Linked DNA regions of Homo sapiens. The protein of the gene in region 3 purifies or fractionates together with the protein of the main gene of each other region. This does not show direct contact. Each region holds a gene or a part of one and is shown on either strand. Other genes may lie near its edges. The genes, in order: SLC67A1, PIGU and KITLG.

Evidence for each region.
Region 1: the proteins of KITLG (region 3) and SLC67A1 purify together in Homo sapiens (affinity purification with mass spectrometry; one large-scale study listed by BioGRID and IntAct). This does not show direct contact.
Region 2: the proteins of KITLG (region 3) and PIGU purify together in Homo sapiens (affinity purification with mass spectrometry, with the first as the bait; one large-scale study listed by BioGRID). This does not show direct contact.

What each region holds. Positions count from the first base shown.
Region 1 is NC_000011.10:2,919,163-2,922,542, reverse strand, and holds part of SLC67A1 (solute carrier family 67 member A1), read right to left. Parts: intron 3,237-3,380; coding exon 3,136-3,236; intron 2,827-3,135; coding exon of another isoform or gene 2,785-2,826; exon of another isoform or gene 753-2,784; intron 442-752; coding exon 340-441; intron 108-339; coding exon 1-107. UniProt on the Homo sapiens protein: May act as a transporter of organic cations based on a proton efflux antiport mechanism. May play a role in the transport of chloroquine and quinidine-related compounds in kidney. Plays a role in the regulation of lipid metabolism.
Region 2 is NC_000020.11:34,565,560-34,569,205, reverse strand, and holds part of PIGU (GPI-anchor transamidase component PIGU), read left to right. Parts: intron 1-3,646. UniProt on the Homo sapiens protein: Component of the glycosylphosphatidylinositol-anchor (GPI-anchor) transamidase (GPI-T) complex that catalyzes the formation of the linkage between a proprotein and a GPI-anchor and participates in GPI anchored protein biosynthesis.
Region 3 is NC_000012.12:88,578,253-88,581,998, forward strand, and holds the start of KITLG (kit ligand isoform b precursor), read right to left. Parts: upstream 2,220-3,746; 5' UTR 2,027-2,219; coding exon 2,012-2,026; intron 1-2,011. UniProt on the Homo sapiens protein: Ligand for the receptor-type protein-tyrosine kinase KIT. Plays an essential role in the regulation of cell survival and proliferation, hematopoiesis, stem cell maintenance, gametogenesis, mast cell development, migration and function, and in melanogenesis.

The DNA.
Region 1 (3,380 bases), on a different chromosome or scaffold from region 3:
GAGACAGCCTTGATCAGCATGCTGTCGGTGACCACGTTGAGGGTGCAGAGGCTGAACACCAGGCCGGGCACCAGGAGGCAGAAGTGGAAGACGCTGGACATCCAGGCCTGGGACGGCAGGCGGGGGCCGAGCTGAGTGGGGGCCTCACGGGACCAGGCTCCTCTCTGGGGTCTTACCTGTCCCTCCCCACCCTGACTGCTGTCCCTGCTGAAGAGCTGGCCCCGGGTGGGTGTGGGGGGCTGGAGGAGTCCCCAAGGGCTTAAGCACAGATGGTACCGCCCAGGTGGCCTTGCCCAGTGAGAGGGTCAGGTGAGTGGGCCCAAAGCGGGGAGCCCTCACCATGGCCAGGCCCACCACGATGAAGACCAGCACGCTGGCCCGGAGCAGCACCTCCTCCGAGAAGTGGCTGCTCAGCTGCCCGATGACCAGGCCCTGGGTCACCTAGAGCCAGACAGAGAGGGTAGAAGTGGGTATGGGGGAGGCGAGGGAGGGGCGTCTGGACTGTGGCCAGCCCCCAAAGCTGGGGACCTCCAGACTGGCCTGTGGTGGCCAGGGCCCCTCTGCAGAGAAGGCCCCTCAGCATCTGCAAGCCCCGGGGTCTCTCCCTACTCCGCCAGCAGTGACTGCGTCAGGATGGGTCTGAGATCCCTGAGGAGTCGGGGCTCCTCTCCACAAGGGAGGAAGGAAAGGCCCACACCAGGGACACCGGGGATGGGCTCGGTGGGACAGGCTCGGCCGCAGGCTGCTCCCGGGGATGGGCTCGGTGGGACAGGCTCGGCCGCAGGCTGCTCCCGGGGATGGGCTCGGTGGGACAGGCTCGGCCGCAGGCTGCTCCCGGGGATGGGCTCGGTGGGACAGGCTCGGCCGCAGGCTGCTCCCGGGGATGGGCTCGGTGGGACAGGCTCGGCCGCAGGCTGCTCCCGGGGATGGGCTCGGTGGGACAGGCTCGGCCGCAGGCTGCTCCCGGGGATGGGCTCGGTGGGACAGGCTTGGCCGCAGGCTGCTCCCAGGCCAGGGCGAGGCTCTCTATCTGGTCATCTCAGCTCCTCCACTAAGCAGGGCGTGCTGGGCCAACGCGCCTGGGAGTGCAGGGGTGGCCCCGGCTGGAGGAGCCCCTGGGCTCAGTATCTGCCCACAGGGCAGGCCCAGCCTGCAGCACCTCTGCAGGGGACCAGTCACCCTCCCAAATTCCTGCCAGGCAGAACAGAAACTGCTTCCAACCGGAACCATAAATGGTTTAAAAATCTTACTTTCACACTTGCTTTATCTTAGGGTTTTTTGGGATTTTAACACCTTTTTTTTTTTTTTTTTTGAGATGGCGTCTCGCTCTGTCGCCCAGCGTGGACTGCAGTGGCGCGATCTCGGCTCACTGCAAGCTCCGCCTCCCGGGTTCACGCCATTCTCCTGCGTCAGCCTCCCGAGTAGCTGGGACTACAGGTGCCTGCCACCAGGCCCGGCTAATTTTTTTTTTTTTTTTTGTATTTTTGGTAGAGACGGGGTTTCACCATGTTCGCCAGGATGGTCTCAATCTCCTGACCTTGGGATCCGCCCGCCTCGGTCTCCCAAAGTGCTGGGATTACAGGCGTGAGCCACCGCGCCCGGCCTAACACGTTTCTTAAAGGAAGAGCTGGCAAGCTCACTTCGTGCAGTGCGTCTAAGAGGGGCTCACAGTGAGTGCCGTGAAGGACTTCAGATCCAGGACTCAGACACCAAGGTCAGAAGCCTATTTGTGTTGCGTCTCAGTTTGCCCATTAAGTTTAAAAAAGCTTGAACTTAGGAGCCCTGCAGGTTGTGACATGAACCTGGAGCTAACAAGCTTGTCCCTGACCGGACTTGGGGTCTGGGGGCTACTCTGCGGGCCCCCTCCTTCCCCTCCTCAGCCTCCTCTCCCGCTGCTCAACCTGTGTCGGGGTCCCCATGCCTCACCCTGCTCCTTCCCCGTCCCTGGGCAGTTCACCAGGCCCAGTTCCTGCGAGGGTGCCCCGACGGTGTTGGTCACCACCCCAGCTCTGTCTGTCTCAGGCAGGGTCCCCACTGCAGCCATGGCAGGCCCAAGTCCCCCACAACACAGGCCAATGACTGCTGTGTCCAGCCCAGCTGCAGGCTTCAGCCAGGGCCTGGCTAAGCGTCCTTCCTCGCAGTGAGCTGGGCGCAGCCTGTTCAGAACAGGCCCCATGGCAACAACCCCGGATTGTTACTATTATTGTTGCTGTTGTTTTTCTGTTTATCTCTTTTTACCCTGCCAGGGTGGCCCCTCCTGCCCCAAAAAGCAGAGGCCCTCTCTGCCCACGGTGGGGGTCCAGCCCCTCCCAGGAGCAGCTATTTTAGCACTAGTCTAGTCCTGGGCCCAGAGGCTGAAGAGCAGATGGCTTGGAGGTGCCAGGAATGCCACAGGCTTCCGGAGAGGCCGAGAGCCCCCACCCCCACCCTGGCGGGTCCCAGAATAGCCCCCCCGCCCCGCACTCTGGCTGTCAGGCAGCCATCCTGGGTGGTGGCAAATCATCACCTGTCCCCACCACCCAGGGTCTGGTCCAGAAGCCCAGAGGAGCTGGTGGTGGAGGTGTCTCGCCCCGGCCCGGGAGCTGAGCGGTTCTGGGGGGCTGGCAGACAGACACCTGCCGCATCGGAGCTGCCAGGGTTTCAGGGCATCCTTCCATGACAGTGTGGCCTCTGAGGGCTGGCGTCTTATCCTACCATGACAGCGTGGCCTCTGAGGGCTGGCGTCTTGCTCCTATGGGACCTCCAAAGGGGCCCACGCTGGTCTAACCACTTTGCCACGTTAGGTCATCTCATCTGCCAAGGACCCTGCAAGGCGGGCACTTTGGCCTCATGGGACAGATTTGGAGAGTTTGGGAGACTTGCTCTGGTCACACAGCTGGTGGGCAGGTGGGCTGCCACAGATCCCAGCCAGCTGCCCATCAGAGGCCGGAGTCCACTGTCCTCACAGCGTGCCCACCACTGCAGTTGGCTCTCCCTCCCTGGCCTGTATGCCTGGTTCCCTGTGGACCCTGACATGTGCCAGATGGGAGGCCAAGGGCTCCCCAGCCTCCGCCGGGGAGGAGCCTCTACTCTCAGAGGCCTGCCCCACTGGAGACCCCTGCCGTGCCCCCCAGCAGGCCCTGTGTGCCCACTCACCATCTGGAGGAGCCCGAAGAAGGACATGAGGTAGCCAGCTTGGGCGGCCTCCAGCTGGAAGAAGTCCATGGAGATGATGGAGAACATGACCATGAAGAGCCCTGAGCCGGGGCAGGGGAACAGGGGTGAGTACCCCCACACCCCGACCTTGGCGCCCACCTCCCTCCCGCCTCAGCAGCCTGGCCAATCAGGGTGTCTGGGCCCTGGCTGGTGACTGGTTCAGGGAGGGGCCTGTGATGCCAGCC
Region 2 (3,646 bases), on a different chromosome or scaffold from region 3:
TTGAGACAGGGTCTTGCTCTGTTGCCCAGGCTGGGGTGCAGTGGCACAGTCACAGCTCACTGCAGCCTCAACCTCTTAGGCTCAAGAGGTCCTCCCACCTCAGCCTCCCAAGTAGCTAGAACTACAGGCACACCCCCACACCTGGCTACTTTTTAAATTTTTGGTAGAGACAGGGTCTTGCTATGTTGTTACGAGCTCGAACTCCTGAGCTCAAGCCAAACTCCTGCCTCAGCCTCCCAAAGTGCTGGGATTACAGGTGTCAGCTGCCGCACCTGGCCAACCACCCACCCTTCCAAGCAGGATCTGGATCATCTGGAACCCTACTCCTCAAGCCACTGCCTATTTGCCATGAGGGGCCAGCCCTGACCCCTCCCTGTACTGCAGACCCTCAGATACTGGGCTGGCCTTGCATTGGCCATTCTCCTTTCTGTTTTGAGTGAGGCCTGAAGCCCGAGGTCTGACACCAACCTCCTGCATGCTGCCTGTCCCCTGCCTGGGACTCACTGTTCACTGCAACACAGGTGAAACCACAATCCTGTCTCCCGGAGTTGCCTCTCAGTTGGCCTGGTGTGTCATTCTGGGAAATGGGACCTATGAGGAAATGCTTGGAGACGTGTTGGGTGGGTCATTAGTGGCTGAGTGGTGTGTAGCCCCCATTTGGGGTTGGCTCGAGACCCATTTCAGGTTTCTTCCTGCCGGTTGTGTGTGGCCTGGGCTGTGCAAGATCCCAGGTCTGTGTGTGGGAAGGCTCGTTGCTCCCGATATGCGGTGCCTGTGGCCAACCTGGAGCCCTTGTCCTCATCCTGCTGGATGTGCGTGTTTACTTTGCTTTTCCCAACTAGTGTAATTCTGTCAAGGTCTTAGTTCATTCCTTTGTCCTTCCAGCACTGAGCATCCCAAGCTTGTCCCTCACAGGCCCTTCCCAGCCTATTCTCCTCCCCAACAACCAGAGTGACAGGAAGAGCCCAGGCTACATACAGCAGGACAAAGGCCACAGAAGGCCAGGGCTCTGGAAGCCCAAACTCTATAGCGACTCCAGCCCTGTCTGTCCTGGCTCGCTGGCCTCAGGCACATCCCGTAACTCCTGGGAAGCTAATTTATTTATTTGCAAATGTTAATTAGGTTCCTACTATTCACCAGGCACTCTGCGAGGGGTGAATGAGACAGAGGTGTACTTCCAAGGAGCCCTCGGTCTGTGGAGAGAAAGGAAAAGACATGGGCAGGACAGGGCAGCCTGACGAGCTGGGAGCCCAGAGCTGGGCTGTTAAGGAGGCTTCCTGGGGAAGGTGGCCTCTAAGTGGGGTCCTGAGGGATGGGTAGGATCTAACTGGGTTCTATGATTTTAGGTAGCAAGACCTGGGTGGGGGTGAAGGAGGGAGAGAGAGAGAGAGAGAGAGAGAGAGGAGGAAGGAGGGAGCAAAGGAGGAACACCGTGCTGCTGGGAGCTCAGTGGGACTGGCTGTACCACTTGAGAGGGAATGAGGGCAATTCAGACAGCAGTGGTCAGACCACAGGCCTTCAAGGGCCTCTTATGCAGAGGTCCAGACTGCACCTTTGGCTTTAAGAGCTGAGGATAAATGTGATCAGATCCATGCTCTGAAAACCTCACTGCTGGGAAGAGCAGAGGTAAGAGGTGTGAGCCTGGCATCCAGGGCACCAGGGACGAGGCTAGGGGAGGTTGAAATCTGGGGGAGGTGGTGGTGGCCTCAGTTTCCTCAAACTGGGAAGGTGGTTTTGAGGACTGAATGTGGGAAAAGTGCCATGTAAGTGAAAAGTGCCATGTAAGGGACAGTTACTTGTAGCCTCATCCTCAGTCTCACCTTGTGACCTCTCAGACCCTGACACTGAGGTCCAGAGATTTCACTTGTTACTTTGCATCTTCAGAGCTGGAGGGTGGAGTTTTCTCCTCCACCATTTCCTCCTACATAATGTCCGCTCCGGCCTGTGGGTTGCCAGGTTACGCCAAAGTGCTGTCCAGCTCCACAGTCGGCCGCCAGCCTCCTCTGCCTCCCAGCTTCCTGGATCCCAGGCAGGTGGGCAGAGGCTGCTGCACTTTGCCAACTGTGACGGCCACATGCATTCCCCCCAGCGTGGGCTGACTGTCAAATGTCAGTGTCTGTGTCCCCAACAGCAGCAGGAGGCCTGGGGAACCAGGACATGCCTGGGTGATAGCACCTGCTTCTCTAGGAATCTGCAGCCCTGGTGGTGGACAAGGCTGCTGTCCTGAGCCCAGTAGTTTCAAGACACACTGTATTAACAACCTCTACTGGCTTTTTACAAAAAAAGTCAATCTCTCTCTCTCTCCACTGAGTGACAGAGCTGTGAACTGGGGAGAGCAGACTCCGCAGGGTGTAAAGGTACCTGAGGTGTCAGCACAGGCCTGGCATGTAGCAGGACTCAGTTCATGTGGGTGCAGACCCTAGGGGGTTGTGGAAGAACTCAGGATTGGGCCTCTGACAGGCAGGACTGGCCCCTAACTCTTCACTTCCTACCATGTGACCTTTTGCAGGGCCCATAACCCCTGAGCTTCCCTTCTCTAAGTAGGCATTGTCAGCCCTACCCTGGGGGGTTGGAAAGGGACAATATTGTTTTTTTGTTAAAGGGCCTGGACCAGGGCAGACACTCAGAAGATATTCATTTCCCTGTCTCTCCATCCTGCCCTGCACTAGAGCATGTTCTGAGGGTTTCGTTCTACTTCTGATTCATCCTGTCTGTCCCTGGTCACCCCTTTATCAGCTAGCTGCCCCATGAGCTCTTCATCATGGTCCCAGAGGGAGGCGGCCCTGGAGCCCTCATGGCTGCCATAGAGAGGAATGTGGACCGAGCCGTCCCTGGGGGCAGCGCTGAGAGGGTACAGACCAGCAAACAACTCAGAGAGAGCTGGCCCTGTGCCGGGCCTGGGGCCATAGAACTGGAGCAAATGCAGCCCCATTTGGTTGGGAGGCCAGTGGGCAGTGACTTCACTTCAGGGTCCATGTAACAATGCAGGGTTAGAGAAGACTCCTGGCAGGAGATGAGCCTCTGAGGGATAGGTGGGAGCTGCAGCGCTGCTGGGCAGGGCAGGGGGAGCCAGGGAACTTCTGAGCAGGCAAGCGTGCGTGTATGTGTGTGTATCTGTGTGTGTGTGAGTGCAGTGCGAGCATGTGAGCAGTGAGAGCGTGCGTGTATGTGTGTGCATCTGTGTGTGTGAGCATGTGTGTCTAAGCATTGCAAGCTTGCATGTATGTGTGCACCTGTGTGCGTGTATGTGTACCTGTGAGTGCAATGTGAGCGTGTCTGAGCAGTGCGAGCATGTGTGTGTGCAAGCATGTGTGTCTAAGCATTGCAAGCATGCGTGTATGTGTGCACCTGTGTGTGTGCACCTGTGTGTGAGTGCAGTGCGAGCCTGTGTGAGCAGTGCAAGCGTGCATGTATGTGTGTGCACCTGTGTGTGCATGTGTGAGCAGTGTGAGTGTGCGTGTGTGTGCACCTGTGTGTGTGTGTGTGTGTGTGTGTGTCCAGAGAGGTGGCTGCAGGAAGAGAAGAGGGCAAGTCTGAGAAGGGGATTGGCAAGGCAGTATTTCAGCCACATTGGGTGGGATCCAGAGACCTGAGGACACAGAGTGACATGTTCTGGGGTCCTAACTGGCACAAAGACTAGAGGAGC
Region 3 (3,746 bases):
ATTCTTAAAAAAAACCTTGAAGGTCATTAGATCCTAGGCAATGAATGCCTTCATTCAACAAGGGTACTGCCCTCCTTTGCCTACAAGCCGTTTAACATCAGCAAGTTCCCCCAAAGGGCCTGCACTTTAACTTGTGTGATGTGTGACCGAACAGGTCACATATCTAAAATACTTAGCTTTCTCAAATTTCTCTGGTCGGCAGCACTGAGTCACTAATGCCACAGTCACAATGTTTCAGACTAGATTGACCTCTTTCTAGTTTTCAATGGAATTATTCCATGTAATCCGATTTACACAGCCATTTAATCAAAGCGAGAAAGGAGATTACAGAGCTCACATTTGTTTTGCAAAGCAAGGGTGCAAGGATAATCAATCCTACTGCCTCTCAAAGTGACTTGATAGTACATCCCCTGGCTTTGGAGTGTTGGACATTAACCTTATCTGTCTCCTGTGTTCTTGTTTAAATAGGAAGGTTTAGGCTCTTTTCCTGAACTAGAAGGTAGCAGCTTCTTCCCCCAGATCTCACCACCATCCATGGGAGCAGATGCTACTATAAGAAGGAATAGGTCTCTACCCTTCTTATAATTTCGCAGAAAGCTTGTCTAAATCAAGAGATTACAATAAAACTTTTCTTTTGTTGCAAGAATCTTTAACATTTGCATTTCGACAGCACGCTGTGGTGATTCCAGGTGCGGTGCTCAATGCCTTGCCTGAAAGCTAACCTGCTTGTAAGAGAGGGGAGAGGCACATCGCGTCTTTTCTCTTAGAGAGTGCTCTAGAGACTATGCAAGCCTCTTTTAGCCAGGCAATGTCCCTTTCCCCTGCCTTTTACCACACCGGTACAAGGGGCTAGAGTCTTGCAACTTTTTGCAGGCCTAGATATCTGTTTAAAATATGATGCTAAGCAGGTCATTTGATAAAGCATTTTGAGCACATTGATGCCTTCATTCTACACCAACGATGTGTACAAACACCCCGGTTTCCTTTTTCCCCACCACTTCCACCCCTTCCACACATTTCAGGAACTGCAATCTCCAACAGAACCTCTGGGGGGTGAAAGGGCAACCCTTAGCCAACCGCGGCAGATAACACATAACAATTTCTAAGGGGGAAAGTGAGAGGAGGTAACAATCAACAATGGTGAAGAGAACTGTGGATAGGGGCACCGTGGCGGCCCTTTCTAAACGAAGAACCAGGTATTTTCTTCAAGGGAAAAAAAAATCTAATTGTCCCCCCAGGCAGCGCTTTACCCACAGTGCTTTATGTATAATGCAGAATTTAGCAGCACTGGGAATTATCTCAATCACTATCATTCAGAGGTGCCTATTTTATAAAAAGCCTTTATCCCTTTTGAAATGGAAAAAGGTGCGTGCATTGTGGAGGTACTAGAGCTCTTTAGAGCCCACACAGAGCTGCAAACTAGGCAGACACCGCCGAGAGCCAAGTTTCCCGGGCAGGCGGGCAGGTTCCCGCCCCGCCGAGAGCTGCCGCTTAGGAGTTCCGCGTTGGCTTCGCTCCCGCGGCTGCACCCGCGTTCGCGCCGCTCCTGGTGCCCGGCGCCCACCTCGGGGCTACACAAATAAATCTGAGTGAGAGAGCTAGTGAGGGTGGCGCGTGGGGTGCTGTTTCATAATCTCCTGGAATCCACGGGAAAACCGTCTCCTATGCAAAGACATGCCTTCCCGTGATAACTTAACATTCCATGGCCCAAAAGCCAATCTTTCCACCAGACGGGAATTACGGTTTCCGACTGACAGCTCAAAACTTAACTGCTGAGGCTCCAAACTTGACACTGGCTCCCTCTCAGCACTCCCACTCCTTTTCTCCCTGGCTCACCCGGCTCGGCTCGGGATCACACACCACGCCGGCCTCCCCCGCATCCTCTTGTCTCACCCGGCAGGCACAGCCCTGCACGCCCCAGCTGCAAGTCCCAGGGAGCGCCGGCTTCCCCGGGGCACCGGGCGCGATTTTTCCTGGAGAGCCTGGGAGCTCCCGGGCGCGCCCTACTCACTTGTGTCTTCTTCATAAGGAAAGGCAGCGCTGCGATCCAGCACAAACAGTGGTGTGGCGACTCCGTTTAGCTGTTCTGGAGCTCCAGCATATTGCACGAACAGCGGCGGCAGATAGTCCACGCATTGGGTAGCCCGAGCGCAGCGCCCTCTCCACTGTCCCTGCTTCCCGCAGCGCTTCTAGTCTCGGCGCGAGGCGGCGAGCGAAGCCCGGCTGCTGAGCCGCCGGCGCTTTTATACAGTTCCCGCCCGCCTGCTCCGGACACGCCTCCTTCCCTTCCGGAGCCCGGGGTAGGCGAGAAGCAGGCAAGGGCGCGGAGGGAAGAATCGGGAGGGCGGCCAGAGCACGGTAAATGCCCCAGAAGTTTGGCAGATTAGGCCAACCTTGTCCGCTCGCCTGGGGGCCCCGGACCTGCACTGGCGGGAGACCGCGAAGGCGCGGGGACGCAGAGGGCGAAGCTTGGTACCCTGCAGCTACTGCTCGCGAGGAGTCCCAGCTTACCCTCCCGGATCCGCTGGGGCTCACCTGGCACCCCCGGGGACAGACGAAATACCTCGCGCGCCAGAGAGGGCTCGGAGCTCCCTCTGTTATACAAAGTCGGAGAGGGAGAGGAGTCCGGGAGGTTCGGAGCAAAGAATTCACCCTGCCTGCCTTAGAGAAATAAAGTTTAATTGCGATCTGTAGTTAGGCCATTGTCCTATCACCTCTATTTTTTAAAAAAAACAATTACTTTAGTGAATGAATATTTAATAATTACAAGAATTGTTGACTCAAGGTTAAGTATTGCAAGGGGAGACGCTTCATTTGGAATGGTTTGTTACTGTGTCTTTAGAAATTAAGATTGAAAGAGAAGCGATAGATTATTAAACTACAGGTCGCCAACACAGCAAGGCTTTGAAAGTTGTACTTTTTTGAACGGAAAGATAATGCAACCACAATAATAATAGCTAACATCATTATGTGATGCACTTATTCATGTGCCAGGTGCCAGACTAAGAACTTCGCATAGATTATCTCATTAAATTCTTTCATCAAATCTATTAGTGTAGATCTTATTATTTTATTCCCATTTTATGGACGATGAAATACAAGGTTAATTTTCTTGACCAACCATATCTAGTAAATGGCAGAGCTCTAATTTAAACCTGGAGCTCCAGCTGTACAGTCTTAAAAAATACTTCAAATATTTTATTGATTCTCCAGAATGTGTCTGTTTTTGTTTGTATAACTGGAGAACATTCCAAAGCATTTCATTAATTTTTTAAAAGAAAATATTAGCTGAACATTAACATCAGTGATCTTTAAAAGAAAGAATAATGTATGAGTTTAGGAATTAGTTATTTTAATAATAGAGTAGGAGTCCAAATTTGCTTTAATTAGTTCCGGTGCGTTTGTTAAACATGAATATGCCAAACCTGTAATCAGGGCGAAGCTTGTTTATTTCACTCCAGATGTGCTGACTTCTGTGATTTCCCCAAATGTGGGAAACTCGACTGCATAATTTAGTGGGGGACTGCGTTCTCACTTTCTCATGTTAGAAAAAATATGTATAGACAGCACATCAATCATGATTCCAAGTTGATAGTTGCTTAGAAAGATTTTTATACATTAGGTACTCTTAGTACAAATATATCGAACATCAAATATCAAAATGAGCTTAATTTGGATACTGGAGGCATAGCAAATGATTGTTTTTTTTTTCTTCAAGATTTATTTTTATTTTTTATTTTTTAGAT